3 linked regions of the Homo sapiens genome follow. The main gene of each other region encodes a partner of the protein of the gene in region 2 in a complex. Each region holds a gene or a part of one and is shown on either strand. Other genes may lie near its edges.

Region 1 (10,131 bases), on a different chromosome or scaffold from region 2:
GGTCTCACTCAGGTTGCCCAGGCTTGGGTGCAATGGCATGATCTTGGCTTACTGCAACCTCCACCTCCCGGGTTCAAGCACTTCTCCTGCCTCAGCCTCCCGAGTAGCTGGGATTACATGTGTGCGCCACCACGCCTGGCTAATTTTTATATTTTTAGTAGAGACGGGATTTCACCATATTTGCCAGGCTGGTCTCGAACTCCTGGCCTGAAGTGATTCACCCACCTCGGCCTCTCAAACTGCTGGGATTACAGGCATGAGCCACTGCGCCTGGCCCTTCCAGCTTTTTCTGACCCTCTTCTCTTGTGCTTCTCATTGCAGAAAAACTGGCAGGGTGCAAGCTGAATGTGGCTGAGGTGACACAGTCCGAAATAGGGCAGAAACAGAAGCTGCAGACGGTGCTGGAAGCAGTACATGACCTGCTGCGGCCCCGAGGCTGGGCGCTCCGGTGGAGCGTGGACTGTGAGTTCCACGCCACAGGGGGAGGGACTGTCTGGAGGGAGCCCGTCCTCTCGACATTCGTCATCCACATTTGTCATCCACATTCATCATCATCCCATCTGGCCTTGCATCTTAAAATTGGGTTCATCTCCCTGCTCTGTAAGAGGTAGAACATTGCAGGGGAGAAGAACAGGAGAAGGGTTAGGGAGATCCTAGAAAAGGGACCTGGTCAGGCCACAATTCTCCATCCTCCCCATGCTGCAGAGGAGAGAGGCAATGTTTATGGATGGGTGGATCAGAGGGACTTTGAGAGAGAGAAGCAGCCTTGGGGGGTTCTTGTTGGGACTCAACCCCAAATACTGGTGGCAGCAACACCTAGTGGGCTGTTTGTCTATGACCCTGGCATTATGAGATGTGACATCACGGTATTTTCAGCCAAGACATGAACCCGGCAGGTGAAAGACTAAACCAGGAGAAGCTGGAAAGTTCTCCTCGGTCCTGCCCACTCCTTCCCCACCTCCCTCCCCTGGAAGCAGGGCCATGAGGGTGTGGCTTCAGGGCTCTCTGTGCTGGGCCAGAGGTCTCCGTGCTTTGGTGAGCTGGGCTCTCAGTGGTAGGCAGGAGACCCTGGAGCCTGGCCTTGCACCCGGTTTCTTGGTATCGAGACCTTGGGCAGACCCAGGCTGTCTCGTGGGTGGCTGGGTCCGTGGGTGGGGAATCGGGTGCCTTGTAAACTGTAAAACCCTGCAGGAGAAGTGGTGATGTTGACCAAACCTGAGTCCGCATGCTGAGGAAGAGAGAGGACAGACTCAGGCAAGGCAGGGGCTAATGTCTAATGTCCCCAGAGTGGCCTCTGCTCTTGGCAGCCTACCCTTGTTGGGATGGTTCATTGCGGAGAGGGAGCCCTTTTTTAGTGCCAGAGATAATAACGCACATCCTTGTGATGGGTAAGTGGCCGTGACCTGCTTTCCATGCTCTTTTCCCTTCTGTGCTAATTTTACTATCCTGTTCCTTTCCCTCATCACTGCCCAATTTATTGCTTTTAAAAACATTGTGCTTCTAAAAGTGGTTGCACAAGTCACCTTAGGCCAACAGGAAAGGAGACAGTGAAGCTAGAAGTAAATTCACCAGGTTGCTCATCAGCTCTCTTGATTTGTCCACACTTCGCTCCATCCTTGTCTCGCTGGGGTCTCATTTAGATGCTGTGTCTCTGTTGCCTTCTGCACGTGGGCTCAGGTTCCTGTGTAACCTGATCTAAAGCGTCTCCCTTCCTCCTTCCTCCTGCAGCAATTCACGGGAAGAACCTGGTGGCCATCCTCCACCTGCTGGTCTCTCTGGCCATGCACTTCAGGGCCCCCATCCGCCTTCCTGAGCATGTAACGGTGCAGGTGGTGGTCGTGCGGGTGAGTATAACCGAGTGGTCGGCCTGCCTGTAACTCCGCCAGAGAGGCAACATCTTCCTCCTGCAGTTTTCCTGCCCTCCCCCTCCTTTTTTCCCCCCAGGAGGCTACCTTCTATTTTTCCCTTTTGACAAAATGTGTGTCTCACCCTGGCTCCGAGATAAATGATTGGAACGGGAACAATGGCATTGATTTGATGAGAGGCAGAAGCAGAGGCATGAGGGTGTTGAGGTTTAATTTTCCACATTTTTGAAAAGAACATTCATTTCTCTCCAAAGCCAACTGGTTGGAATTCAATCCCCTTGAATGTGCTTATTACTCATTGGAGGAGGTTGGCCCCGCGGGATGAAACAGACACCCAAATTAAAGCCGCTTTGCATTCGTTGGGGATTATTCATCATGCCCCATCATCTCTTTTTTTGGGTTCATTTCTCTTGATTCACTTGGAGAAATGGAACCAGAACCCAGGTCCTTCTAACAGAGGGTGAAGTAGAGTTACCTTTCTCTTGCTATTTCCCTTACATTTATTTTTTATTTTATTTTATGTTTTGTGAAAGGGTTTCACTCTGTTGCCCAGGCTGGAGTACCATGGTGCAGTCATGGCTCACTGCAGCCTCAACCTCTTGGGCTCAAGCGGTCCTCCCGCCTCAGCCTCCCAGGTAGCTAGGACTACAGGCACATGCCACCGTGCCTGGCTAATTTCAAATTTTTGTAGAGACAAGGTCTCGCTATGTTGCCCAAGCTGGTCTCGAAGTCCTGGGCTCAAGCGATCCTCCCATCTCAGCCTCCCAAAATGCTGTGATTATAGGTGGGAGCTGCCATGCCTGGCCTTATTTCCCTTACATTTAAGTGGACAGTCGCTGCCTAGGGTTCGTGTGTGCAGTTTCCCTCAGTAAATGTGCAATGAGCGCCTACTATTCTCTAAGCACTCAGCATAGGCTGCCGAGCCACTAAAGGAGGAACACATGCCTGGCGTCTGTGGGGGTGACCACTGCGGCCAGAGTTGAGGTCACGCTCGGAACCTTGGATGCCTCTGTGTTTATTTTACTCGAGACATCCGGCTCCACTTTCCTCTGGTTTTTAAACTTCTCAGTCCCGTGGTCTCTGTGGTCGGGGAGGACCTGGCTGTCACTGTGTTTTCCGAACCCATTCTGGCCCCTCTGTTACCCTGGGAGCTCAGTCTTGACCGGACGGGAATGCTCCTCTCTGGCATCCGGCAAGGGCCACCTGCCATGTGTCCATGTTTCCTTCCTAAGGAGGATGTTTGTGGCTGGTGGTGGTGACTCGGGACCTGGGGGGCCATTCCTATGGCCCCGTGTCTTGGCCACTGGTTCACAGGCAGCCGGCCTGAAAAGGCTTCCCTAGGACACATTGGGATGTGGTTCCCAAGCCTACCTACGTCAGCTCGGGGCCCCAGGAGCCCTGTGCAGGCTCAGAAACTGGAGTATTTCCTTTCAGGCTTGCACTTGGGTCCAAGATAATCTTTGCGGTTTGCAGAAAGTTTGAACCAGGCAAGCACTTGCTGGTGCTTCCTGCCATAACGGGTTAGAGGAGTGTTGTTTGGCCACGACCAAAGCAGAATGAAACGGGAGCAGGGGGTCCTGTGAACCGGGCGCAGTTACTCCCCAGACCTTAGAGCCGCCTTCTGTCTTCTCTGCAGCCCCCTGGCCTCTGAGCTTGCTCAGGGGACCCCTTATCTAACCCCAGATGGAATGGTTGGTGTAAGGGATGTGGCATTTCCAGGGTGGAAGGAAGGAAGGAAAGGGCCTTATTTACTGCCTGGCCACGTGGCTTTGGGCTGATCACTTGCTTTTGCTGAGCTGCAATGCTTTTCCCCATAAAACCAAGATTTTACTACAAACCTGTAAAACATCCAGCTTCATGTCTACAATCCTAGACCTGGGCCCAGCACCTGGTGGGTGCCTCAGGCATGTTTGATCCTTGACTAGGTGAACACAATGTCTGGACCTTCCTTGGCAGGCACTCCTGAGAATCAGGATAAATGTCACCCACACTGTTGTTCAATAACAAGCACCAACCCTGAGTATTCCATGGAGGTCAAACTCAGGAAAGGGATGGAAGCCCAGATCTTGGTGGTGTCCACTGTGGGCTGGCCCAGCGGGAAATGAGTTCCCAGTCCCTTGAGGGGTTCAGTGGTGGTTGGATTAGCCACCCAGGCTCCATCTGGAGCTCCTGTGACAGGCGGGCTGCCACCCCTACCATCACCACTGCCATGCCCCCCTCACTACCATCATTACTTTTTTTTTTTTGAGATGGAGTCTCACTGTGTCACCCAGGCTGGAGTGCAGTGGCACAATCTCAGCTCACTGCAACCTCTGCCTCCTGGGTTCAACTGATTCTCCTGCCTCAGCCTCCCAAGTAGCTGAGATTACAGGCACATGCCACCACGCCCAGCTAATTTTTGTATTTTTAGCAGAGACCGGGTTTCACCATGTTGGCCAGAATGGTCTCAATCTCTTGATCTCATGATCTGCCTGCCTTGGCCTCCCAAAGTGCTGGGATTACAGCTGTGAGCCACTGTGCCCGGCCATCATTGCTTTTCTATACCTGCCACGCTCTGGGAGAAGTGTGACATATACTGTGTCAGTTTCCTAGGGCAGCCATAACAAAGTACCACAAACCAGGTGGCTTAAAACAGCAGACATTTATTCTCTCGCAATTATGGAGGCCAGAAGTCTGAAATCAAGATGTTGTCAGGGTAGGATGTCCTCCCTCATGTCTCCTCCTCTAGGGGAGGGGTCTTCCTGCCTCCTCCAGCTTCTGGTGGTGGCTGTCAGTCCTTGGTGTTCTTGGCTTGTGGCCACATCTCTCCAGTCTCTGCCTCTGTCATCACATGGCCTCCTCCCTCTGTCTGTTTCTGTGTCTGTTTCCTCTTCTAATAAGGAGGTGAGCCATATTGGATTAAGGAGGGGCTCACCATAATCCATGATGACCTCATCTGAGCTAGTATCTGCAAAGACCCTTATTTCCAAATGAGATCATGTTCTGAAGTTTGTGGTAGATATGAACTTTGGGGGACCCTCTTCAGTCCCGTGCACACACATGATTGCAGGGGATGTTCCCTGTTATTTATGTTCCTTCCAATTGCATGCCTCACCTCTCCTGGCTGCAAAGCATAGAGGATCCCTTTGGGGAATCCTGACCTGGGGTGTTTCTCCTGAGACCCACACAAATGCCAACTCTCAAGGCCACGTGGAGACCAGAGGGTGGGGAGGAGGATAGGGACAGGTTGTGGTCGCTGAAAGGCACCCTGCCCAGGGTCCCCTGCTGTGTACTCACCCAGGCCTGGCATGCGTGTTCAACACCACCCCTCCTTCTCCTGTTGCTCTTTTCTAAGATGATCTCCGGCCCCGCAGCTTCGTCTGCCCTGTCAGTGCATCTTTCCTCAACTCTCCACTGCCTGATTTTGTATGTTTATTTTGGGGTTTTCAGAAACGGGAAGGCCTGCTGCATTCCAGCCACATCTCGGAGGAGCTGACCACAACTACAGAGTAAGTGGACCCCTGTCTTGCCCTTCCAGGCCCTGCTGCCCCGAGTGAGTGGGACCCCAGGCTGCCACTTCAGCCAGGGACACCAGCGCCCATGGGGCTGCTCCCGCTCCACACCCCTTCTCTGTAGCATGTGATTCTCATGCTGGTTCCCACCCCAGCTCTCCTCCCTCTGCACACTTTCTTCAGAGTTTTTAACATTAGAACTGAGTTACCTTCCACAGACTTTGAATTTTTTCATTCCTATCTTAAAAGGTGAGCTGTAAGAACATTGCAAAGTGGGGCAGGCAGAGAGAGTTCAGGATGGTTAGAGAGAACCATTGTCTCAGTTCATTTATCCATCTACATTAGCCCCATCAGAGGTGGGAGCTACATCTTTAAACCAGAACTTTCCTTTGACAGACACTACTAAGCCATCTGTTATCTCCTAGAGAAAGCCAGAGGGCAGGTGTTCAGAAGTCTAAAAGGCTTCAAATCTATTGAAAATAGCAAATCAAACAGTATCTGTGGTATGTGGTTTTAAGGACTCCTTGTGATAACCTGCTAAGAATCTTTAGAATTCACTGCATTTGTGCCTCTTGACTAAACCTGTTTCAGATGAAACAGAACATTTAAAAATTGATTGTCTCAGCTAATCCATCAGCTAAGTTCACAGAGTGATTAATTACTGTGTTGTGAATTCATGGATGGTATTTCAAAAATTGGAGCTGACACAGGAAACCACTCGTGGCTTGCAAGCTCTCAGGGAAGATGATGGGACAGTGGAGTGCAGGCTGATGCATGTGCAGAGGCCCATGAAGAGGCCTCCCAGTCTGCCCCAGGCCCACGAAGGGAACAGGGAGAGCTGGAAAAGGGGAGGATGAGAATGTGGTTCTTTGCCCAGCACAGTGGGCCTTTGGCAGCAGCTCTGCCTATTCAGCAGTAGGAGAAGGGCTGCTCGTGGGGAACTGGGATTGGGCTGGTGTCTTAGTTGTTTATTGTTGTGTAACAAATCACCCCCAAAGTCAAGTGGCTTAAAACAACATCTGTTTCATTTGCTGCTCACAATTCTGTGGGTCAGCAATTTAGGCTGGGCTCAGCTGGGCGGTTGTTCAGCCAGTCTCGCCTGGGGTTGCTCATATGATGCAGACATCTGAAGGCTGGATGGAGGCTGGGGAGGCTGAGATGGGCTCCCCCTACCTCTGGTGGTTGGTGTTGGCCTCCCCTGGGTCTCTTTCCTCCTCACAGTGCTGGGCATCTTCCCAGGGTGCTCTCAGGGTCCTGAGAGAGTGAGAATGCAGCTGCAGTCCCCTTGAGGCCTTGTCTTGGACATCCATACCTATGTCCTCAATTCTGTGAGTCAAAGTGAGTCACAGGTCATCCTGGATCAAGGTGCAGGAAACAGACTCTGCCTCCTTGTGCAGGAATGGCCTGTGCACATTGTTGGGTGGTGGGCATGCTGTGATAGGAGTTCCCCTCTAGGTGAGGGGGTCCCATATGAGGACAGCAAGGAGGAGCTGGGCCCCCTGCCATAAAACTAGAATGGTCCAGAGACAGAGAATGAGCAAGTGGGTGGGAGAATTGTCTCAGCTATTCATCAGCAGTAAGTGGCCCCAAGGACCTGCTGCATGCCAGCCTCCTTGCTGGATCAACAGAGACACTGAGAGGTGGGCTGAGTGCAGTTCTTTTCCTCCAGGGCGACCCATCCTGCTGATGAGAAAGGATGCATCCACAGACATGTACAGTCTAACACAGGGGCTTGTGGGAAGTGCCTCGGGGCCCTAAGGGAATTTCCAGGAGGAGGGGAGCACCCCAAAGTCAGGGAAGGGGAGATTTCAGTGAAAGCCACCTCAATCAGATATCAGATGGCCCTGAGCAGTGAGGAAGGGAGTTGGGATTTTCTAGCCTGAGTCAGTGTCCCTCTGCCAGCCAGGGTCAGGGTAAAGGAGAGGCTGGGTCACCTCTCCAGGATGATGCCCCAGGTAGGTTCTCCTCAGGGCTGGTCATCCCATCCTTGTCTCCTGTTCCTTCCCCTCCCCGTGGCTGCGGAGGCTCTGACGGAACATTTGAATCATTGGATGTCTGCTGAAAACCAGCGGCCCAAAGATCCACATTCAGTTTCCTAAGGCAGCATTGCCACCTCCTATCCAGTCTCAGTGTTCCCCTTTCTCTTTCAAGAGGTGGCTATGAGGTCACCCCTTCCAGGAAGCCCTCCTGTCTGCCAAGCAGGAGTGCTTGGCTTCCTGTTAGTTCCCTTAGCCTCTGGACACATGTGGCCAACATTGAAATATTGGCTTATGAGGTCTGTCACTCCCAGGCATCCTGAGGGCAGGGCCACATAGTGTTTATCTCCAGGGGATGTTAATTTCTGTATCTGCACAGCCTGCACATAGTAGGTACTCAAGTAAGTGCTTGTTAAATAAGATGGAGCCAAAGGACTTGAGCCTAGAGGGATTTGGGGACAAAGTAAAGACTTCCTTGCCTCTCAGGAAGGCAGTGCATGGAAAGGATCTGTGCACTCACTCACTGGGAATCTTTGAGGAGAAGCTGCTCACCACTCCCGTCTCCCCCATTGCTTCCGCTGCCGCCTGCCTGAGATCAGGGCCTGGCCTCGTGGTTCTCCAGGATCCTTTAGTTCCACAAGTCCTGCAAGTACATTGTGTTTACTCCTGGAAACATGAGTAACCTGCAACCTTGTGTGTGTGTTTGTTTGTTTATTTATTTATTTGAGACAGGGTCTTGCTCTGTTGCCCAGGCTGGAGTACAGTGGTGCGATCCCAGCTCAGTGCAGTCTTGACCTCCCAGGCTCTAGCGATCCTCCCACCTCAGCACCTGAGTAGCTGGGACTAGAGCGCACGCCATGACACCCAGCTAATTTTGTATTTTTCTTAGAGGAGGTTTTGCCACTTTGGCCAGGCTCGTCTCCAGCCTTGCATTTTTTTATTGTTTTGTTTGTTTGTTTGTTTGTTTTTTGAGACAGAGTTTCACTCTTGTTGCCCAGGCTGGAGTGCAATGGTGCAATCTCTGCTCACTGCAACCTCCACCTCCTGGGTTCAAGTGATTCTCCTGACTCAGCCTCCCAAGTAGCTGGGATTACAGGTGCCTGCCACCATGCCCGGCTAATTTTTGCATTTTTAGCAGAGATGGGGTTTCGCCATTTTGGCCAGGCTGGTCTCGAACTCCTGACCTCAAGTGATTGACCCGATTCTGCCCCTCAAAGTGCTGGGATTACAGGCATGAGCCCCTGTGCCCGGCCCAGCCTGTGTTTTGAGCGTTCCACGGCTGCTGGAAGACCTGTTGTCTGCTGAAATCTTCATATTAACCACTCTTCTGATTTAAGTACCTCCCCTCCAAACAACATTACCAGGGTGGTTAATGTGCAAATAGAGATGGTGATTTGCTGCTGACCTTGTGCAAACATTAATAATTCACACAAGCACCTCTCGTTTATAATTAGAGCAGGCTGGAACACAGCACCATGTGACTTGCGTTCTTATCAGTAGGCCTTTACCTGGGCAGCGAGGGCCCAGCTTTCTGGCTGGCTCTGTCCCTCATCCTCCATTGTGCTGCTTGTGAAACTGTGTTCTGAGTGACCCATCTCATGGCTCTCTCTGTGTTCTTGTTTGCAGGATGATGATGGGCCGGTTCGGTAAGTAACCCCAGGGAAAGTGGGGAGATGGAGGCATGTTAGGGCTCCCCCAGGAAGCTCCCAGAGAGTGTACATGGTTATCTGGAGGGAGTGGGAAACTAGATGGGTCTCACTGCCCCCATAGTTCTGGAATCCTAGAGAAAGTGCACAGCCCACCCCCACCTTTCTGTATAATGGGCTTGTTTCTCAGAGCTGAGAGTGGCTGGGTTGTGCTAGGAGGAGTGGGGTGGAAGGCTGGGTGACCAGCTAGGGGAGCAGGAGGGGCCTGGGATGTAACACTGGCTGGAACTGTCAGGGGCTGGAGCAAGAGTGGTTGAGGGTAAAAGGGAGGGAGGAGAGGCAGCCAGCACATGGAGCGTCGTTAGCTGGCTGGAAGAGAGTGGCTCAGCTCTGTGGATGTCCTTCCATGTGTATTATTTCCTCCTGGAAACCACTGGTTTAGCAGACTTCCTTAGAGTCAGGCAGCCAGGGCTCATTCCTGGCTGGTGGCTTGTGGCCTGCCCCTTCCTCTCTCTGCTCCTCATCCGTGAAATGGGAGTGTAAAAGGCTCTCCCCAGGCAGGGGCTGCTGTGAGTATTGGGTGAGATCACAGGTGAGTGCCCTGCTTGGCCGGGGGACAGCCCTCTATGTGGGCTGGTTTTATTAGTGTTGGTTTTCAGTGGCTCTTCCCAAAGAGAGAGAGGTAATCACTCTCTCTTCCCTCATGAAAGCCTGAGACCTCATCTTCATCTCGGTGAGGGATGGTAACGTTTCAACCCTCAGTACCAGGATACCCCGGCCCTCGGCCTGGCCAGCCTCAGTGCTTTGGGAAGCATTTCAAAAGAGAAACCTCTTGACCCCCAGATACCCTGTTCTCCAGTGAGCAGGGAGGGGAGAACAGCTCTTAAAAGGAAAAATGGAAACCAGATAGAAGTCTCCCACCTGCCTCTCTAGCGGAGCTGATATCTGTCTTTTGGGGGCCCTCTGGGTGGGGGTGCCACCCCCTGAGTCCTATACAATGAGGGCTGGGCCAGCTTGGCCATGGGGCTCTGTAACCTCAAGTTATTATGGGGACCAGCTAGGATGCCATTGCTGCTTATCTATTGTATTAGGGTTCTCTAGAGGGACAGAAGTAATACGATAGATAGATATATATAAAGGGGAGTTTACTAAG
Region 2 (10,131 bases):
GCTTCCCTGCAGGTAGGACCGGGTCCCTGGGGCAGGGTCTACCAGGGCCCAGGGCCCATCTGCTGACCTCTAGATCCCAGGAGGGCTCAAGGGCTGAGCAGCCTTTTTCTCTCCTCTCTGCAAGATGAGGCCAACTCAAGCCCCCCGCTTCCTGGGGCCCTGAGCCCCCTCTATGGTGTCCCAGAGACTAACAGCCCCTTGGGAGGCAAAGCTGGGCCCCTGACGAAAGAGAAGCCTAAGCGGAATGGGGGCCGGGGCCTGGAGGACGTGCGGCCCAGTGTGGAGAGTCTCTTGGATGAACTGGAGAGCTCCGTGCCCAGCCCCGTGTGAGTACCCACTGGGCCCTCCCCAGGTGGGGAAGGGCTGGCCCAGCCTGCCCCGGGTCCAGTGTCTGTCCCCTTAGCCCTGGTATCACCCACTCCCTCCCGTGTCTGCCATTTGCCAGGCACTGGGGGGATAGTGGTGAGTCACATGGACACCATCCCTGCCTTCAGCCAGTCACTGCCAGTCAGAAAGGACAGACGTTGTGCAGGCTGAGGGCGCCTGGAGCTTAGCAGCTCTTAGCACAGGCTTTGGGGCCACACAGTGGGGTTCACATCTTGGCTCTGACAGTTACTGTCAGCTCTCAAGCCTTAGTTTTCCCATCTGTAAAATGGGACAAGAACTTATGGGATCACTGGGATAAGACCACCTACCTCAGTAAGGGTGAGAACCAGTAATCCATGTAAAGCGCTTGGAATGGTTTCTGGTGTGTAGTGCGTGGCACACATGGTGAGTGCCCAACACGCGAGCTCTTACCAGTGCCGTCGTGTTACTGCAGTAGCCTCACCTCCATGTCCAGTGTTGTGGAGGAAACACAGGGCGCTTGGGCTTGTTTCGCAGGCCAGCTTTCACTTGGGCTGGGGGCTAGAGGAGTCTTCCTGGCACTTCCTGGTGCCATTGAACTGCCCTTTCTTCTGACCCAGTGATGGGTCCCCAGGAGAGACAGGGAGCTGGTGGACCTCCCTGGGGTTGGGGATGGTGAGACCCCAGTGTCCGAGGTGAGAGGTCGATCTGATCCCCGGGAAGTGTGGGGCTGACTGTGGGCTCCCCACTGATGCTGTGCCCACCCTGCAGCCCTGCCATCACTGTGAACCAGGGCGAGATGAGCAGCCCGCAGCGCGTCACCTCCACCCAACAGCAGACACGCATCTCGGCCTCCTCTGCCACCAGGGAGCTGGACGAGCTGATGGCTTCGCTGTCGGATTTCAAGGTGCCCTGTGAACCCTCCATCTTCCCTGCCCTGCCGCCCCTCCCTCATCCTTCTCCTCCCTTACCTCAGTGTGGGTAGCTGGATCTTGGCATCTCAGTGTTTGGGTGCCTTGCCCCTGAGCCAGGGACACTGTCATGCCCTGGCCTTGCTGTGATGCCAGGAGATGGGGAGGGAGGGCCGGGTCAGCCTGCCTGAGGATTGCAGTAGCCAGTGAAGGCAGACAAGCTGGAGAAGTGCTCAGCTGGGACATTCCTTCCTCCCTGGGTGCTCCCAGCCTCTCAGGTCGAGGGGATCAGGAGGCTGGGACGCTGGGACAAAGAACCTTGTGTTGATGGCTGCTCTGGGTGGGGGAGGGCATTCTCTGCTGGGCCATGTGGGACTTGGGAGCCTGTGCCTGGGAGGTCATTTGCCCTGGAGCCCCATCTCCCACGCTAGCTGTCCTCAACACATCCTCTTTCTTTCTGCCTCTGATCCTGAATCCACAAGCCTCCCTTGCTACTCTTCTCCCATCCTTCCCTCTCGCCCTCCAGGGCCTCTGAGTTCCCACGAGCGTGTCTGTGGGAAACCATGGGGCCAGGCTTGCACGAGGTACCTGCCCTTCCCCTCCCCTGCTGGGCCTCCCCAGTCCTGCCAGGCCTGAGATGTTTAATTTAGAGGATTCAGTGTTTCCTTGGGGATTGATATTGACAGAACTCACCAGCAGCTGCTGACTTCATACTTCCACGTGGGTCAGCTGGAGACCTTTGGGGCATGACCTAGGGAATATGAGAGGGGAGTGAACGGTCCCTGCACCCTTGGCCCTGATGGTGTCTCCTAGCCTCCCTTCAGCTGAGGTTTCATGGTGGGAGACAGGAGTGTGGCTGGGGTGGAGGGTTGAGCCTGGCCCTGTGACCCTTGCGTGCTATAGTTCCAGCTCCAGGCCAGTGGTTCTGAGCAGCCATGGTCAGAAGCAAGTAAGTTGGATTCAGGGCCTGGCCTGAGGGAGCTGTGCCCCGGTGCTTTTAAGGCTGCCGTTTTCTCAGACAGCCTGTGTCCTGATGCCAGGAGAAGCAGCAGTGGTTTTAGTCAGATCCCTGGAGCAAGGATGTGGAAGACGTAGAGGACTTGGGGTGTAGGAAAGCTGGGATTGTCCGGAGGGACATGGCCGAGTTGGGCCAGTGTCCGAGGCGGGTTCAGCAGCCCCTGGGGCTGGCTCTCCCTCCATTTGTGCCTGGGGCTGTCTTCCGTAGCCACCTGGCTCCCCATTTGTCCACCTTACCGTGGTCTTTTCTTTCTCATACCCTCCCTGGGTGGCTCCACAGGCACGGCTTGGTGGCTGCTTTCTCTTGCTTGGGTTTGGTGAGGGCTAAGCACGCAAAGCCCAGGGAAGCTTTTTTGGGGTCTGGGTCTCCTTCAAGGGTCAGTCCTGTGCGTCAGCTTTGCAGCCACCTTGGTCAGCCCTAAGGCCGAGCCCACCGCCTGCAAGGTGCAGCCGTCCTCACTCCCCTCATCTCTCTCTCTCCTCTCCCCTCTGCATTTCTCTCTTCTCCAGACCAGCTCCTCCACTGTGGCTCTGAGTGCCCCGGGGCTGTCCAGCTCTGCTCCGTCCTCATACTGCTCCCTTCCTCCTTCTCCTCCTCCCATGCCATCTGTATTTCTGCCACCCACCACTATACCCTCCCCTCGAGGCCAGGGCCACACTCCGGAGTTCCCTTGTACTGAGCAGAGTGGACGAGGCCTTCTACCTCCTGTAGCCCCCAGCTGGCTTGATTTGGCTGGTCTTGGGGTGATGCCTGACACCTTCAACTCAAGGTCTCCCTCTGTGGAGGGTTCTCTGTGGGCAGTGGGCACAGAGAGTCAGGGTCGAGATTGGAGGCACCTGCCGACCATCACAAGTGAGCTCTCTGGGGCTCCCCGCTGCCACACTGTACCCTGTGCTGGGAGCACAGCTCTCCAAGAGCCTGGGGAGCCCCAGGGGCCACCAGCCAGCCCTTCGTGCCCAGAGGAGGCCTTGGCTGCCACATGGGAGCAGCCATGGGCTTCGGAGGTATTCGGGCCTGAGAGAATGCCCCCCTCTGGAGCTGCTCGAAGCTTCCAAGAAGTAACAGAGCCAGCTGTAGTGGCAGTGGACCGGCAGGCCATCTTCCCAGATACCTGGACTCTCACGGAGGAACATGGCCTACAGCAGGAGAGGCCAAGGCCAGAGCCAGGGAGGCTGGGAAGCAGCTCCCCTGCCTCAGTTACCACGGAGCAGCTAGGTGCAAAGATGACCGAGAGGGGAAGTGTGGCCAGGCCAACCCAGGGACCTGAAACCCCAAGGAGCCCAGAGGGCACCACGGAAGCTGCCACCCAGGACGGGAAGGAACAGCCAGAGCTTCCATGTGCCATGGCCATGGGCACACCCAGCACCACGGAGAGGATTTCCACCTCTGGCCAGGCAGGCACCAGCTCGCATGGCTGCTGGGCATGGCCATTGGCGGGTCTGAGTGTGGGCCGCTCCTCGCTAACTGCATGCAGCCTCCCACTCTGCGCATGTCTGCTTGGGCAGAAAATGCTGAGACACTGTGGCCGGACCTGACAGTCAGCACTTGGCAGTGGGCTCTGTGGACCCAGCATTTCTCATAGCGTCAACCCACCTCTTGCCTTGTTGAGGCTTTTTCCTTTCAGATGAGCTGTCCTTGACATTCTGATGTGGTGAAATGGTTAGCAGCATGGACTTTGGAACCAGATAGACCTAGATACAAACCACATGTCTAACACTTGCTACCTCTGTGACCTTGGGCAACCCCCTCCCTCAGCCTCAGTTTTCTCATCTGTAAAGTGGGGAGAATTTCCATCAAGATTGTCCGGAGACCTAAATGAGATAATTCCTGGAAAGTGTTTAGAACACAGCATGTGGTCCCTCAATAGGCCGTGGCTGACAGTACTTTTATTACTTGCTTTTTGCTTAAATTAAAACTTTATGCCGGGCCAGGTGTGGTGGCTCACGCCTGTAATCCCAGCACTTTGGGAGGCCGAGGCGGGCGGATCACCTGAGGTTGGGAGTTCGAGGCCAGCCTGACCAACATGGAGAAACCCCATCTCTACTAAAGATACAAAAAGATTAGCTGGGCATGGTGGCGCATGCCTGTAATCCCAGCTACTCAGGAGGCTGAGGCAGGAGAATCACTTGAACCCAGGACGCAGAGGTTGCGGTGAGCCAAGATCATACCATTGCACTCCAGCCTGGGCAACAAGAGTGAAACTTGGTCTCAAAAAACAAAAACAAAACAACAACAACAACAAAAAACTTTATGCCTCACCCTGGCACAGTAGCTTATACCTGTAATCCTAGCACTTTGGGAGGCTGAGGCAAGAGGATCGCTTGAGCCCAGGAGTTTGAGACCAGCCTAGGCAACACAGTGAAACCCTGTCTCTACAAAAAATTAAAGATTAGCTGGGCGTGGTTGCACATGCCTATAGTCCCAGCTGCTGGGGAGGCTAAAGCAGGAGGATGGCTTTAGCCCAGGAGTTTGAGGCTGCAGTGAGTTGTGATCGCACCACTGCATTCAGCCTGAGCAACAGATCAAGACACTGTCTCAAAAAAAAAAAAAAAAAAAAATCCCCCAAGCTTTATGCCTCTTTGGAAAACAAAACGAAACAACCAAAAACCCCCAAAACACTACCAACAAGTATAATAGCATAATATAATATTAGCATAATAATATAAATAAGAAAAAAAAAACTAGTTAAAAAAGTTCCTGGCTAGCTGAGCACGGTGGCTCACACCTGTATTCCCAGCACTTTGGGAGGCCGAGGCAGGCAGATCACGAGGTCAGGAGTTTGAGACCAGCCGAACCAACATGATGAAACCCCATCTCTACTAAAAAAAAAAACAAAAAACAACAACAACAAAAATTAGCCAGGCGTGGTGGTGCATGCCTTTAATCCCAGCTACTCAGGAGGCTGAGGCAGGAGAATCTCTTGAACCCAGGAGGCGGAGGTTGCAGTGAGACCAGATCGCGCCACTGCATTCCAGCCTGGGCGACAGAGCGAGACTCTGTCCCCCCCCAAAAAAAAGTTCCTGGAAGGAAACACTTTTTCTATTATAAATTAAAAAAAAGAAAAAAGAAAAAGCCGTATGCCTTGTCAAGGGCATGCACTTACATCCTCTGGAATAATTCTTGTGCAAACCCTGTGCGGTAAGCCAAGAAAATCTTGTGGTTCCATTTTAAGGAAGGGGAAGCTGAGGCCCATGGCAATTAAGTGTCTTGCCCAAGGTCAGTGGCCAACTTAGAGGTGAATGCTGGGTCAGAGGTCTCGCTCGCAGCCTGTGCTTCTGGAGCCAGTCCGATCTGCCCCCTCCCCTTGCCTCTACCCACCTCCACCGGTCCAATCTGCCCCCTCCCCGTGCCTCCACCCACCTCCGCTTGGTTCTTTGGTGGTTTTCTTTTGTGCTCCCTCTCCTGAGGCATCTGAGTGTGGCCTGAGCAGCGTTGTGCAAGCTGGGAGTGGGACGGTGACAGCCTCCCCTCCCCCTCCCCCTAGATCCGATCTGTGATCAGGAGGAGCTGGGAGTCTGGCCACGCACACCCCATGTCCCGGGAGCCCTCCCCTCGCCGCCGGCTGGACCCTGCCACCTTGAGCAGGACCCCATCCCAGGAACAGCTCATCGCGGAGCTGCAGGGGCGGCTGGGCATCCAGCCTGAGGCAGAGGAGCCGGCGGAGGCGGCGGGGCCCTCTGCCCAGGACTGGCTGACCGAGGGCGTCATCATCACTGTGCAGCCACGTGGGAAGCGGGCCGGGGGGCAGCTCGTAGAGAAGGTGGCGAGGAGATGCCCATGGCTGGGGCTGGGCCAGAGCCAAGCACCTGGGGTCCGGGTTCTTCCCTGGCCCCAGTGCTGGCCGGAGGGGAGATCTGGGGAGAGGGTGGGGGTTTCTTGCCTCCTGTGACTTTGGAAGACTGGCCCCACTCTTGGTGCAGAGTGGGAAGGCCCAGGGGGAGCCTGGGGAGGTCCCGCCACCCCTGTGGGCTGAGCTGGCGATTTCTTCCTCATCGCTCTCCCTCCTTTCTTCTCCCCAGGTTGTCTTCCCTCCTGGCTCTCCCATTCCCCTGAGAAGAACCATCTCTGTCCTGGCTTCTCCTTCTGTCCCTTTGCTCCAGCATCGCACAGACGCCGCGGCCAGCAGCTCTTCTCCCCTGCCCAGCCTGCTCGCCTCCTCCCCCCTGGGGCCCTCAGCTTATACCTGTGGTTCTTCTGGGGTCCAGAGTGCAGGGGAAGAGCCCCATGATGAGGGGGTGCAGGGCCCTGCCCTTCCCATTCCTGCACCCCACACCATGAGGTCCGTGGGCTGCCAGACTGATGAGGACCCGCTCTTCCCCCCGATGCAGGCAGGCCTTAAAGGAGCCCCTCCCTTTCTGTCCCCTGTCCTAATGCCTGAGCCATCCCCCACTCTGCACACACACACGTGCACACACACATACACAGATACCCTCCATCCCTCCATCTACAAGCCCCAGCACAGTAACCACAGTCCTGCCGTAAACCTTGACCCCGGTCTTCCCCCACTCAGAAGGTCCGCTGCCCTCTTGCTTTTCTGTGGGTCCACCCATGTCTGCTCCTTCCTCGACTGGTCCTCAGTACTGCCCCGGGCTCCCATCGAGGAAAGAAGCCACTCCAGAAGGGAGACCAGAAACCTGTCTCCTCCCTTCCAGCCCCCAGGCCCAGCGCCCGGTGAGGCCTCATCACTGAGCCCGGCCACCTCCCCTTGCCATTTCCTCTGCCTTTGGTCGACTCCCCTCCCTGTCCTTCTTCCTTTCTCCCTAGGCCTCTCTCTCAGGGCTCTTTTTCTCCAGATTTTTTCCCCCAATTTTGGTCCTGCCGGTGGGGGAGAAACCCTCAGATCTCATCCTAGATTCCCTTTTAGTCCAGTGACAAGGTCTTGTATTCTTTCTTAATTTTTAAAAAAGATTTCTTACCCTCATCTCTTCCCCTATCTAAGATCCAGGGCCTGGAGCAAAGAGCGGATGGGGAGCGGTGCTGGGCGGCCGGCTGGCCTCGGGACGGCGGGCGGAGCAGCCCCGGAGGGCAGGACGAGGGAGGGGTCAGTGCCAAGGCTGGGCTGGGTGTCCTGCGTGTCGTGCTCTCCCTGGGCTTGGCCATGCCTGCTGGGTGCCCTCAGCCTTTCCGACCCTGGTGGGCCCCTCCGACCACCAGGAGTCCTGCTGACGTCACTCCCACTTTAGGGCTCCTGGCCCCTGGAGGAGGTTGTACTTCTTGTCTCCATCAGCTCATCTGTCCAGGAGGGAGAAAAGTACCCCCATCCCTGTGCTGCCAGACACCGTACCCCGAGCCTCAGGAGTCCTGACCAGCCCCCTCCGTGTCCACAGTTCATGGCCCAGGGGAAGACAGGGAGCAGCTCACCCCCTGGGGGGCCCCCGAAGCCCGGGAGCCAGCTGGACAGCATGCTGGGGAGCCTGCAGTCTGACCTGAACAAGCTGGGGGTCGCCACAGTCGCCAAAGGAGTCTGCGGGGCCTGCAAGAAGCCCATCGCCGGGCAGGTGATGAGGGGGAGTGGGCAGGGGTGTGGCCAGTGGACTCCTGCAGGGGTGGGGGTGCTCCGGGGCTGGCCTTGGCCCTGGACCGCATTCCATCTCCTCCTCAGGTTGTGACCGCCATGGGGAAGACGTGGCACCCCGAGCACTTCGTCTGCACCCACTGCCAGGAGGAGATCGGATCCCGGAACTTCTTCGAGCGGGATGGACAGCCCTACTGTGAAAAGGACTACCACAACCTCTTCTCCCCGCGCTGCTACTACTGCAACGGCCCCATCCTGGATGTGAGTTCCTCATCCGGCACCGCGCCCGCTTCCGCTCATTCCAGCTTCACCGCAGCCCTCTGAGGATGCAGGGGGTGCCGTGGGAGGCTCAGAGAGGTCACATGCCCGAGGCTCACAGGGCTAGGGAACAGTGGGGCCGGATTCACAGCCACACCTGAACCACAGCCTGTCCCGATGTGCATCGGGCAGCCCCACCTCCCTTCACCTCCCATCTCGATTCCTTTCTGTGGAGACTCCCAGGACTCAGGAGCCCTGAGGAGATAAATGGAGTTGGATGCCAGCGGCCTCACTCTCCCTCTCTGTGAACTTAGGAAATGCCTGGCCTCTCTGAGCCTATGTTTCTTCACTTATAAAATGGGAGTCATAGAACTTGTGCCCTCTACTTGGGGTGAGGAGTAGAGGAGAGGGTATGTGTCTGGCTTGTCCCATCCTGAGTAACTCTGAATTCTTAGAGGCATTCACAGCACAATTAGGAGAGACCCCCATCTTGGGAGTGTTTTGCTCTGTCTATGGCTATGAGCTGCGGGTGGAAGGACGGCCTTGCTGGGCGTCTCAGTTGTGAGATCTGCCCAGAGCTCAGCCTTGATCCCACATTTTGCTTTCACAGAAAGTGGTGACAGCCCTTGACCGGACGTGGCACCCTGAACACTTCTTCTGTGCACAGTGTGGAGCCTTCTTTGGTCCCGAAGGTACGGGCTGGACCGGCGGACTGACCCACCGCCTCTTAGGAGGGCCGGGGAGGTGGGGGTGGGAGACGCTGCTGAGGTTGGAGTCAGAGTGGCTCCACTTCTGGAAGCCGGAATGAACTGTGCCTCCAAAACCCCCGCTCCCCAGGGTTCCACGAGAAGGACGGCAAGGCCTACTGTCGCAAGGACTACTTCGACATGTTCGCACCCAAGTGTGGCGGCTGCGCCCGGGCCATCCTGGAGAACTATATCTCAGCCCTCAACACGCTGTGGCATCCTGAGTGCTTTGTGTGCCGGGTAAGGAGCCCCTGACCACATCTGGAGGGGCGAGGAGCAGGCAGTGGGGAGAGAGGGGTCTTCCTCATTGTGCTGTCTGGATCCAACTCAGAGGCCTCATTTGGGGTTATTAATTGGGGGAGCAGGCAGGGGATCTCCTTCCTCCAGTCCAGTAGGTCCTGGGCCAGGGTTTGTACTGAGGCTGGGACAAACCAGGAGCAAGGTAGACATGTCCCCCAGTCCAGCCCTGTGCAGCGGCCCTGGGCCATTCCTATTTGGGAGGAGAGTGTGTGAGAACTAAATGAGATAATGCAAGTATTTAGCAGACTCAACAGAAATGGGCAGTGGTTTCCAAAACCACTGCATTCTGGGGGCCCCACAGGGGTTATTAATGATTCAACAAGGGCTCTCTGACCAAATGAGTTTGGGAAACACTGTTCCCTGCAGGACTTCTCAGAGCCTTTTCTTTTCTTTTCTTTTTTTGAGACGGAGTCTCACTCTGTTGCCCAGACTGGTGTGCAGTGGCACGATCTTGGCTGACTGCAACCTCTGCCTGCTGAGTTCCAGTGATTCTCCCGCCTCAGCCTCCCAAGTAGCTGAGATTACAGGCACACGCCCCCATGCCTGGCTAATTTTTTGTATTTTCAGTAGAGACGGGGTTTCACCATGTTGGCCAAGCTGGTCTTGAACTCCTGACCTCAGGTGATCCGCCTCCCTTGGCCTCCCAAAGTGCTGGGATTACAAGTGTGAGCCACCTCACCCGGCCCCTCTCAGAGCCTTTTCTACCTATATGTGATGTGAATCTCCAATGAGAATCTAGGAGGCAGAGTTTGACTACAGACCAGTGTCACACCTGTGTTTCTGGGAACACTGTTACAGCCACCTGGCTAAGTGCTCAGGAGTCAGACCTGTGTATGAATCCAGGCTGTGACCTCAGTAGCTGCATGACCCTGGGCAAGTTACTTCACCTGTGTGCTTCAGTTGCCTCCCCTGTTGGGAGAACTAAATAATCCCAGCCCTGTGGGAGGCCGAGGTGGGAGGATTGCAGGAGGCCACATTTGACCAGCATGGGCAATATAGTGAGACCCCCATCTCTACAAAAAAAATTTATTTAATAAA
Region 3 (9,970 bases), on a different chromosome or scaffold from region 2:
CTTGCTATGTCGCCCAGGCTGGGGTGCAGTGGCGCGATCTTGGCTCACTGCAAGCTCCGCCTCCCAGGTTCATGCCATTCTCCTGCCTCAGCTTCCCGAGTAGCTGGGACTACAGGTGCCTGCCACCACACCCGGCTAAATTTTTGTATTTTTAGTAGAGACGGGGTTTCACCATGTTGACCAGGCTGGTCTTGAACTCCTGACGTCAGGTGATCCACCTGCTTCAGCCTCCCAAAGTGCTCGGATAACAGGCATGAGCTACCTTGCCTGGCCCTCGACTGATTTGAAATGAAGAACAGAGAACATGAAATTTTAATGGCAATAGATTAAAAGAAACTACAAAGATATATTGTTGATAATAAAGAAAGAATGAGGGAGGAGGGCAAGGAGAAAGAGGTAAGAAAAAGAAATGGATAGTGGAGGGAGATGTAGCAAAAGAAGAATGGGAGACAGCAAGATTCAGGGACGGGTCCACATGCCTAACCGCACACAAAAAGGGGGAGCCACCAAAGGACCCACAGAGACACTTTCTAGGGCTTGAAGAGTTAGCCAAAGTCAGTTACATTGTTCATGGCCAGCTGTTGGCTGTAGCTCCAGACCTTGAACTATTATCACCTTTTATCCTTGCCTTTGAATGGTTAGTGCTCTGGTCAACCACTGTTCACAGCTCTTTAATTGCTCATTGAAACATTCTGAGGCTTAGCTTAGGTCACAAGCCAGAAGCTCCCCCAAATGAGCTACAATTCAGTAAATCATTCATCTCCAAGTATCTCCTCTGAAAAGGGAGTATTCGAAACACTATCTCATAAAACATTCAAAGCACCGATGAAAATCCAAGGAGAAAATGCTGCTTGCACTGAAACGAAATCCATGGAAAAGTGTTCTGAGTTTTGCATTTACAAAAAAACCGGGACTTCAGCAGAACTGAGTCCCACCTCAGCATCAGCCAGCATCACCACCCGCACACCTGACTTCCCACATGTCCACATTCTGCATGCTCCCGTGGATCTAAAGGCCTCAGTTGGTCCTGAAACTAAGCAGCCTCCATGACACTTTGCAATCTGAGGGTCAACAGGAGCAATCCCAAGGAGATTCCAAGACAGTCTCAGGCTGAGGTTGAACTCTCAGTCCACCCCCCCACCCCCCATCCTAGGCTACCAAACCTCCCCTCACTTCACCCCAAGGGCTGCAGAAGAGCTCAGCTGTTTCAGAGACAATAGAGCCTCCCCCTTTCAAGCTCCATCCTTTTCTCCTCCAAGCTTGGTTTCTGTGTTTTTCCCTTCCCCACATAATCTGTCCCCAGCCTCCTACTTTCTCGTCTGTTTCTCCAATCTCTCTCTTCTTGTGCTCCTATTTCCTCCTCATGTTTCGCTATTCCATCTTAGAATCATTTCTCTCAGAGGAAGAGGGGGCTTAACAGATACATATAGGCCGGGCACCGTGGCTCAAGCCTATAACCCCAGCATGCTGGAAGGCCAATGCAGGCGGATCGCTTGAGTCCAGGAGTTTGAGACCAGCCTGGGCAACACCGCAAAACTCTGTCTCTACAAAAAGTACAAAAATTAGCTGGGTGTGGTAGTGCGTGCCTGTGGTCCCAGCTACTCGGGAGGCTGAGGTAGGAGGACTGCCTGGGCCCAGGAGGTCGAGGCTGCAGTGAGCCATGATTGTGCCACTGCACTCCAGCCTGGGTGACAGGTGAGACCCTGTCTCAAAACAACCACCACCACCAAAAAACAAAAAAACCCAGATACATCTGGAAACAAGATCTACAATCTATCCCCCCGAGTTCCCACCCCAGCTCCACATCTTGCTAGCTGTGCAACCTTGGAAAAATGGCCAAACCTCCCAACCCCTCAAATTCCTCAGTTTGGCGGGGAAGGGGGAGGAACATGGCAATCACAGAGGTCTTTTATAACTCTCATCTTCTAGATAGGTAAACGTTCACCTGTGTAACCATGAATAAACCAGCAAGTTAAACATCCACAGGGAAAGAGAACAAATTACAGAAACTCCCTTTCCTCAGCAATCTATCATCCCACCCTCATCTCCCACAACCACTCACTCTGGGGTCTGTGCCTCTCACTCTGGACCGTTCTAGCTCTGAATTGTTTACATACTTACAGTAAAACCTCACAAATCACACTAATCAAGGAAAAGGTAGATGTGAATCCAACAGAAGCCTGCATCCTAGAATGCTTCTTCTATGCCATTGTGCAATACTTTGAATTTATTATCAATTTAGCAAACAGGAAAGAACCTGAAAATGCCATCACAAACTGTGACTCTAAGAACAGTGGAGTTGTCAGGAACCCTGGAAGACCTTCTGCCCTATCATCCTCCACTTCACCAGCAAGGACACAGGCCCAGAGAGCAGAAGCCACTAGCCCAAAGCCCAAAGATTGGTGGCCAGGACCAAAGCTAGCTGTCCTGCCTCTGGTCCAGAGCTTCTCCACCAAAGCTTTTTGAGACCATCCATGCCTTTCTCCTAGAGACAGGTCAAATCCTAAATTACCATAGAGTGCCCTCTACAGCAAATCTATCTCCACATCCAGGGAAGGGTCTGGAGATAAGTTAGGATGACCTGATCATTATCAATGCTGCACAATAAAAACTTTCTTTCCTGGCCCTGCCCTTTCATTGTTTACAAAGAAAACCCTAGACTCTGCTATCTGTATTGAACTCTTATTTTAGAGAAGGGGAAAGAGAGGAACAGCTGAACAGTGCTTTGTTCTGCCAGGAAGAATTTGCTCATCCTTTCCCATAACTCCTACCCACTCCCCAATATGCCCAATCTCTTCCGAAAAGTATACAGAAACTCTCCAACTACAACAAATGAAAGCAGGTAGGAGAAGGAAAAGGCCAACAAGGCGGGTATCGTCCACAAGATGACAATACCCTCCCAACTCTTTACCCCACAGGGTAGACAGCAGTTCATTTCAGTTGCTAATTCCCTGCAGGGAAGTCGCCAAAGGAGTGGTCTCAGGGCCCTCCAGCTGAGAAATGTGCTCTCTGCAACCCCTGGAGAACTAACCCTTTCCTAACCATCTGCTCCAACAGTGCCTTGGGCAAAGGTGCCAACAGACCAACCCTTCCCTTCTTTCCCCTCAGGCCAAGAAAGAGACATCAGAGCTTGGTTGGCAAGGGGCTATTTAAGGCAGCATCCAGAGGGCGGGGCAGAAAACTGCTGGAGGCATCCTCCTCCTCCACCCCTCCCCCTCACAGCCCAAACACACGCCCCTCACTCTGTAGACAGCCATCTGCCTCATCGGTGTCTGAAGGCTGTAGATATGTCCATCATCTGTCTTCTGTCATTGATGCTGCTGACCCCTCTGTGTCCACCCCACTTTTAATCCAACCCTCCTCTCTTCGATCACCACCAAGATACCTTTCCAACCAAAACCACAGAATTGAATCTAAGCAGAGGAGCTCAAAACACAAGGAGAGTGAAGACAGCCAATCCATCCCCCGCCTCCACTTAAGAGGAAAAAAGGGCGCGGGGGGCTGGGCGGGGGGGGGGGTGTTGAGGGGAGAGATGGAGTCAGAGGCCTGACACGCCAGATAGGTTCCATGATGTCTCTAGATGAACCTCCCTCCTATTGACGATGAAACCAATTCCAGCAATTTCAGCAGGTCGGCCCTGTGACAACAGGGGCATCCCAACGCTCAGTGTTTAAAACAAAAATCCAAAGGCTCGCCCAGAACATGCTGGGAAAAACCGAGGACTGAACAAAACGAGCCATGCTCAGTGGGATCCCTTCTGCTTTTACGTAGCAATGTAATAGCGTAATAAATTCTTGTCTGCCTGGAGAAAGCATGCACTGGTGAATTTCAAAGCCATCTTACGACAGCGGATGCATGGGGATGCAGAATTCGACAGCACATTCCCCCATGAAGGAAACATAATGACTTCAAGCCTCTTTCCCCTCTATCTTGAATGGCGCTACCACGTATCAAGGAAGCCACATCGGAAAGCAGCGAGGTGGTAGCAGGGGATGCCCGGGGAATTCGGAGAAAGGAGTTGCTTGCTGTCCATGTCGGTGATGAGCTGCCTAGCAAGATGCTGTCAGCCACTCGGGGAGAAGAAGGGGCACGGGCGGCACGGGCAGGCGCCGTGTCCCCGGCGCATACTAGTCCCCGTTCATTCAGGCGGGTCCGGCCAACCGCGTCGTCCTTGCGCCCCTCCCGCCGCCCTCTCCAGGGGATGCTGATGAATGAACACACCTGAGATGCCTCCATCCCGCCGCTCGCTCCCTCCGCCTTCCTCTGGCTGCTGCAGAGGTGCCCCTCCTCGGTAGTTTCACTTTACAGCACAAACCCATTCGGGCTTTGATGTCTCCTCCACCCACCCAAATTGCAGCCACCCTGAGACGGGCGGACATTCTCTCCTAGCAGAGGCCATGATCGTACTACCCCACACCCACCAAAAAAGGAAATTTAAAAACCCCCAACCCTGGAAGCCCCCAGATCCTCCGCACCCTGGGGAACTTTCCTTGAAAGACTGGGGATTCGCCGAGCAGGCAGGATGGACGGTTCGGCCGCGAGGGACCACCGCTTTCCCTGTGCCCATGGGGGGATGCTCTGGGGGAGGGGGTCCCCCAAGTCCCTCCAACAGCTGGCCCTTTAAATGCGCCTCCTCCGAGCGCGGAACAAAGGCGCCGCCCGCGGGGGCCGAGCCGCGCACACCCCCGGCGCTGCCGCCGCCGAGCGGGCAAGCGCGGCCGGGCGGGCGAGCGCGGGCTTACCTTGCTGGTCGCCGGGCGGGCGGGCTGCGCGCGTCCGCCCCACTCGCACTACACGCTGCAGCTGGCCCCGCTCTGTTTTTCTGGGACTCAGCGCTGACTTCACCGACACTCCGCGGACAACCAATGGGCTGCGGTGCCCGCCCCCTCATTAGCATGCCTCTGGAACCGTCCACTCTGGCAGCGCCCGGCCAGCGGGCGGTGCCGGGGGCGGGGCCGGGCCCAGCCGTGACAGGAAGGGGCGTGTGCGCGGATGGGAGGCGAAGAAGTGTCCGGCGCCCGGCTCCTGGCATTGTGAGCCCGCCGGCCTCCGCCGGTAACGGGCGCGCGGGCCTAGTAACCCTTTCCGTCCTGGCCGGGCCGGACGCTGGCCTGGCGCGCCTTCTGGTCCTTCGGAAGGGTCGCCCACGGGGAGCTTGGAAGGAACCTTAGACGTAAAATAACAGTGATAAGTTATTTAACTCCTGGGCCTCAGTTTACCCATCTGTAAAATGGCATAATAGTCCGACTTCGTAAAATCTAGTGAAGATTAACATAGTTAACATAGGTGATGCATTTTGATCAGTTCCTGGCCGTCGTGCTACATAAACGTTTGCTGTTGTCATTCGTGTGCTCTGTACCAGCCAGTGTGCTTAATGCTTCCCGGATATTTCCTCATTTGATCCTCTTAGCCTGATAAGAGAGGAACGATTACTAATCCATATTTTTCTAGTGAGAAAACTGAAAATAATTACTATTTTTATGCAGGAAAACTGAGGTGTAGTTTAAGTGGCTTGTCCGAGGTCACACAGCAAGTGGTGCAACCAGGATTTGAACCCAGGCTCTGAGATTTCACTCATGCAACACACATATATTTAGAGGCTCTGTGGCAGTGCTGGACCCCAGTGTTAACTGCAGAGAACAAGACAGGCAAGGCCTTTTCCCTTAGGAAGCTTCCATTTTAGTGGAGACAAGTAAATAAATAAGATCCTCTACAATGTGAAAAGTAGAGTGCATACAATGCAACAAGGTCATTGCAAGTGGGGGGAAGGCACCGTGTTAGATGGGGTTCAGAGCTAACCACTGTGCTATGCCATTCTCCTGACCTCCTCTAGTCCCCCTCAGAGTTACAGAAAAGGAAACAGAGACAGGGATCAGAGTGGGGAATCTGCTGGCCCAAGGTCGCAGAGCCAGCAAGTACTGGTCTGGAACTTGCTCCCTCCATGCCCAGCTTCCCACATCCCTGAAGATAAGACACTCGCCCTTTGGGCTGAGCACAACTGATTTTTGTCAGCTGCCCTTGCAAGCATCTTCAGCCAGAGCACATTCTCAGTGAACAGGCTGTGGGTGGCAGGGTAAAGACTGGCCTTGATAACTGCACAGACTGATCGGAAACTCATCAGCAAAGATTCTTAGATGTCAGGGAACGGTGACAAGTCTTTGGTGACCACCTGGTGTCCTCTGCTGTGTATTAAAAAAAAAAAGAAGAGTCCTAGCCATCTGGAAGCTTACTCTATAAATGAGAAAACACTGGGGAACTACTCAACCTAGGGAGCCCCCAGCCCACGGCCTTCCCCTATCTGCACCTCATCCTGCAGCTTTTCAAAGAACACTTCCCCGGCTCTCCTATTTATTTACTCCACAATCTGTGTAAGACAGCTCTCTCTGGGCTATAAAGTAATAAAACAGCTAGTATTTATTGAGCACGTCTAGGCTGCTATGCACCGTACTATACTTGTGCTAAGAGCTTTACATGCGTTAACTCACATCCACCACACGACCCCAGGTGGGAATAGTGTCGTTATCCTGAGGTTATCCACAGAGGTGTATAACAAAGGGTAGAGAGACTAGTTACTTACCCAGCAAATTCAGGGCAACACCATTTTAGAATAGCCAAAAAAAAAAAAAATCAAAACAATCCAAATATCCAATTTGAGTGCATTGGTTAATAATAGTACAACCATATGACAGAATATCATATATTAATAGCTACAAAAAATGAAGAGGTTTATTGACACATAAAGATGCTCATAATAGGCTGGGAGTGGTGGCTCACGCCTGTAATCCCAGCACTCTAGGAGGCCAAGGTGGGCAGCGGTGGATCACCTGAGCTCAGGAGTTTGAGACCAGCCTGGGAAACATGGTGAAACCCCATCTCTACTAAAGAATCCAAAATTAGCTGGGCATGGTGGCGTGCACCTGTGGGAGGCTGAGGCAGGAGAATTGCCTGAGCCTGGGAGGCGGAGGTTGCAGTGAGCCAAGATCGTGCCACTGCACTACAGCCTGGGCAACAGAATAAGACTCCATCTCAAAAAAAAGAAAAAAAAAAAAGATGCTCAGATTATTGAATGGAAAAATAGGTAGAAAACTAGTTTTATACTGCAATCCCATTAGAACTATTCTTATGGGATTGCAAGTAATTATTTTTGCTCATCCATAGTCTTCTGATTTTTTTCTTCATAAACATCTACCAACTTGTCCAGTGAAAATAAAATAATTTTAAGATGAAAAACCAGACTCTATCAATGAAGATTTCATCTACACTATCTCAAGGAATCTTAAGGGAGGCCTAAGGCTTCAGGTCATCCCTCAAATATTGAACCTCTCTGCTGTTTCCAGTCTGTGTCACTGTTGCATGTCTCACTGTAAGGCATAACATTGCCATTAGGATTTATGAAAGAAATGGTAAAATAGTGGAAAGTCAAGAAAGAAGGAAAGTGGAAAAAACAGAAAGAAAAATCCTACTGGTGGCCAGGCGCAGTGGCTCACGCCAGTAATCCCAGCACTTTGGGAGGCCGAGGCAGGCGGATCACGAGGTCAGGAGTTCGAGACCAGCCTGGCCAACATGGTGAAACCCCATCTCTACTAAAAATACAAAAAATTAGCCAGGCGTGGTGGCACGCACCTGTAATCTCAGCTACTCGGGAGGCTGAGGCAGGAGAATCGCTTGAACCCAGGAGGTGGAGGTTGCAGTGAGCCAAGACCACACCACTGCACTCCAGCCTGGCGACAGAGCGAGACTCCATCTCAAAAAAAGAAAAGAAAAGAAAAATCCTACTGTCCTTCAGGACTCATCTCAGGTGTCTCCTCCAAGAAATGTTGAAAGTCACGGTCTTTCGATGGGTTGGGTTTTTGTTTTTGTTTCTGTTTTTGAAACAGGGTTTCACTCATTCCTGTCACCCAGGCTGGAATGCAATGGCGCAATCTCGGCTCACTGCAGCCTTGATCTTCTGGGCTCAAGGGATCCTCCTGCCTCACCCTCCCAAGTAGCTGGGACTACAGACATGGGCCACTGTGGCCAGCTAATTTTGTGTATTTTTGGTAGAGACAGAGTTTCACCATTTTGCCAGGCTGGTCTCAAACTCCTGGACTCAAGCGATCTGCCCCCCTCAGCCTCCCCAAGTGCTGGGATTACAGGCGTGAGCCACCACACCTGGCCAGTCCTTCAATGTTTTAACGCTGAAAGCAACCCAAGAAATCATCAGGTGTAATCGTGTCAGTTCATCCTATCTCCAGTCATTCATAGATTCATCTGGGCAGCAGGCCCTGAGCTAGGTGCTGGCTACAAGGTGGTGAGAGAGATACTTGCTCCCTACTTCCCAAAGGTGAGCCCTAGGGAATCAGAGGCCCAGGGAGGTTCGTTTGGGCAGGGCCAGCCCTGTGTGGATGCAACCTGTGCTGAGGAGGGCCCCACACTTGATTACATGCTCTGCTGTCACCATCTTGAAATTCTTCATTTTTGAACAAAGGGCCCTGCCTTTAATTTTTGAACTGAGCCCTGTAAATTATGTAACTTGTCCTGGGGAGGGTGAACCTTGAGGCCTTGTCAGTGCATCAGTGACTGACCCTTGAGTAAAACAGTAAAACTTCCTGTTCTCCAGTCTCAGTCTCCACCGTTTCTCTTAAACCTGGGTCCACAGGGAAACGGGAGGACTCCTGCCTTCCAGCCCTACAGTGCTTCATTTCTTCCTTTCTCATGGAACTTGCCATATTTGGCATAAACTCCTGTATATTTGTGTGTAGTCTTATCCCTCATTTCCTCTCCCCAGCAGATTGTAAATTCCATGAGGTCGTGCCTTGTGTCTGCTCATCTCAAACAGTGCTTAGTCCTGTGTTTTACACGCTGTTTAAAATGTGCTTAAGTTTAATTTAATCTTATTAGTAACTCCTCGTTTTCTCTTCATGTGTATCAGATTATTCCCAGCAGTCCTTCCGCTGTTGGAGAGAATTTAAAATATCAGGCGGAGAGTCATGCACACAAACCAGGATCATAAACATGCTGTGGGACGCATCCCCAAGCAGGTCATAAGTGTGAGGAATTAGGAAAGGAGGGAGCAGGATTTTTCAGAGGACAGCCCAGAGTCGTCAGCCTTTACTTCATCTTCAGAGCCACACAGATTGGGAGAGAGGGAAATAAACTAGAGGCCCTGGAGCTGGCAGTAGCATAACAGTTAAGGCTGCGGGCTCCAGAGACACCTGGCAGAATCCTAGCTCCAGTGCCTAGTGTGCAGACTTCTCTCATCTGTAACCTGGAGAAAACACAACCCTCCATAGGTTTACTTGCAAGCTGAAGATGAGATCGTGCATGGATAGTGCCTACACACTGCCTGACACACATAAGCATCAATAAGTGAATATTATTTTAACATTACTAGGAGGCAGTGTTGAGAAAGACAACTTCTTAGAACACGTTGGTTTTGGTAAGTTGTTTTCCCAGTTACCCGAAATATTGACCATAGTCATTTTCAGAGATGCCGTGCTGGAGAATGCCAGGAGAAAAGAAGAAAACCAAATGAGAGAAAGAGAGTTATGAATCAAAGAGTTTTGCTGCTGTATCACCAAACACCCCTTGATGATTTTTGTCTAATGCCTTCTGTAGCATCTTACAGAAAGCGAAGCAAGTAGTGGAAAGAGCAAAACTCCTTAATAACTGATTGTCTTGTTTCTTACTGATTAATTACTGAGAAAAAAGTAAATCTACAAACGCGTGCCTCAGGGCACGGAACTGATTTGAAGATGATGGAACGCCCGAGCCAAGAATTCCACATTCCTTAGAGGTCAATGCTGGTGGACAATGCTTTAGGGAAGTTTGGTGAAATGGTGGAGGTTGATCAAGAGAAGTCTATGGGGCCAGGTAGAAACCCAGAGGAGTAGGAGGGATTGCTGTGCTTGGGAAGCAGGGATAGGATGAGTATGAGTAACCCCAGGACTCTGGTCACAGGGCCTCTGTTTATCAATCTATAAACACTGGC

The links.
Region 1: the proteins of PXN (region 2) and PARVB are in contact, whole or in part, in a crystal structure (PDB 4EDN), measured with the Homo sapiens proteins. Residues at the interface, in NP_001074324.1 of Homo sapiens: Asp3, Leu4, Leu7, Leu8, Asp10, Leu11, Glu12, Ser13; in NP_037459.2 of Homo sapiens: Ala241, Phe242, Thr244, Leu245, Ala249, Lys252, Val255, Val256, Ser259, Leu260, Tyr354, Phe357, Thr358, Lys361.
Region 3: the proteins of PXN (region 2) and SORBS1 are in contact, whole or in part, in a crystal structure (PDB 2O9V), measured with the Homo sapiens proteins. Residues at the interface, in NP_001074324.1 of Homo sapiens: Val45, Pro46, Pro47, Pro48, Val49, Pro50, Pro51, Pro52, Pro53, Ser54; in NP_001030126.2 of Homo sapiens: Phe876, Phe878, Val900, Asp901, Asn903, Trp904, Ile917, Pro919, Thr921, Tyr922.

The regions. Positions count from the first base shown.
Region 1 is NC_000022.11:44,131,166-44,141,296, forward strand, and holds part of PARVB (beta-parvin), read left to right. Parts: intron 1-321; coding exon 322-462; intron 463-1,728; coding exon 1,729-1,844; intron 1,845-5,294; coding exon 5,295-5,353; intron 5,354-8,958; coding exon 8,959-8,978; intron 8,979-10,131. UniProt on the Homo sapiens protein: Adapter protein that plays a role in integrin signaling via ILK and in activation of the GTPases CDC42 and RAC1 by guanine exchange factors, such as ARHGEF6. Is involved in the reorganization of the actin cytoskeleton and formation of lamellipodia.
Region 2 is NC_000012.12:120,212,744-120,222,874, reverse strand, and holds part of PXN (paxillin), read left to right. Parts: coding exon 1-12; exon of another isoform or gene 13-124; coding exon 125-326; exon of another isoform or gene 327-1,116; coding exon 1,117-1,252; exon of another isoform or gene 1,253-1,560; intron 1,561-1,949; exon of another isoform or gene 1,950-2,783; coding exon 2,784-3,668; intron 3,669-5,758; coding exon 5,759-6,034; intron 6,035-6,293; coding exon 6,294-6,602; coding exon of another isoform or gene 6,603-6,945; intron 6,946-7,213; coding exon 7,214-7,315; intron 7,316-7,457; coding exon of another isoform or gene 7,458-7,601; coding exon 7,602-7,772; intron 7,773-7,876; coding exon 7,877-8,050; intron 8,051-8,657; coding exon 8,658-8,739; intron 8,740-8,884; coding exon 8,885-9,033; intron 9,034-10,046; exon of another isoform or gene 10,047-10,131. UniProt on the Homo sapiens protein: Cytoskeletal protein involved in actin-membrane attachment at sites of cell adhesion to the extracellular matrix (focal adhesion). Recruits other proteins such as TRIM15 to focal adhesion.
Region 3 is NC_000010.11:95,556,578-95,566,547, forward strand, and holds the start of SORBS1 (sorbin and SH3 domain-containing protein 1), read right to left. Parts: upstream 4,795-9,970; 5' UTR 4,743-4,794; intron 1-4,742. UniProt on the Homo sapiens protein: Plays a role in tyrosine phosphorylation of CBL by linking CBL to the insulin receptor. Required for insulin-stimulated glucose transport. Involved in formation of actin stress fibers and focal adhesions.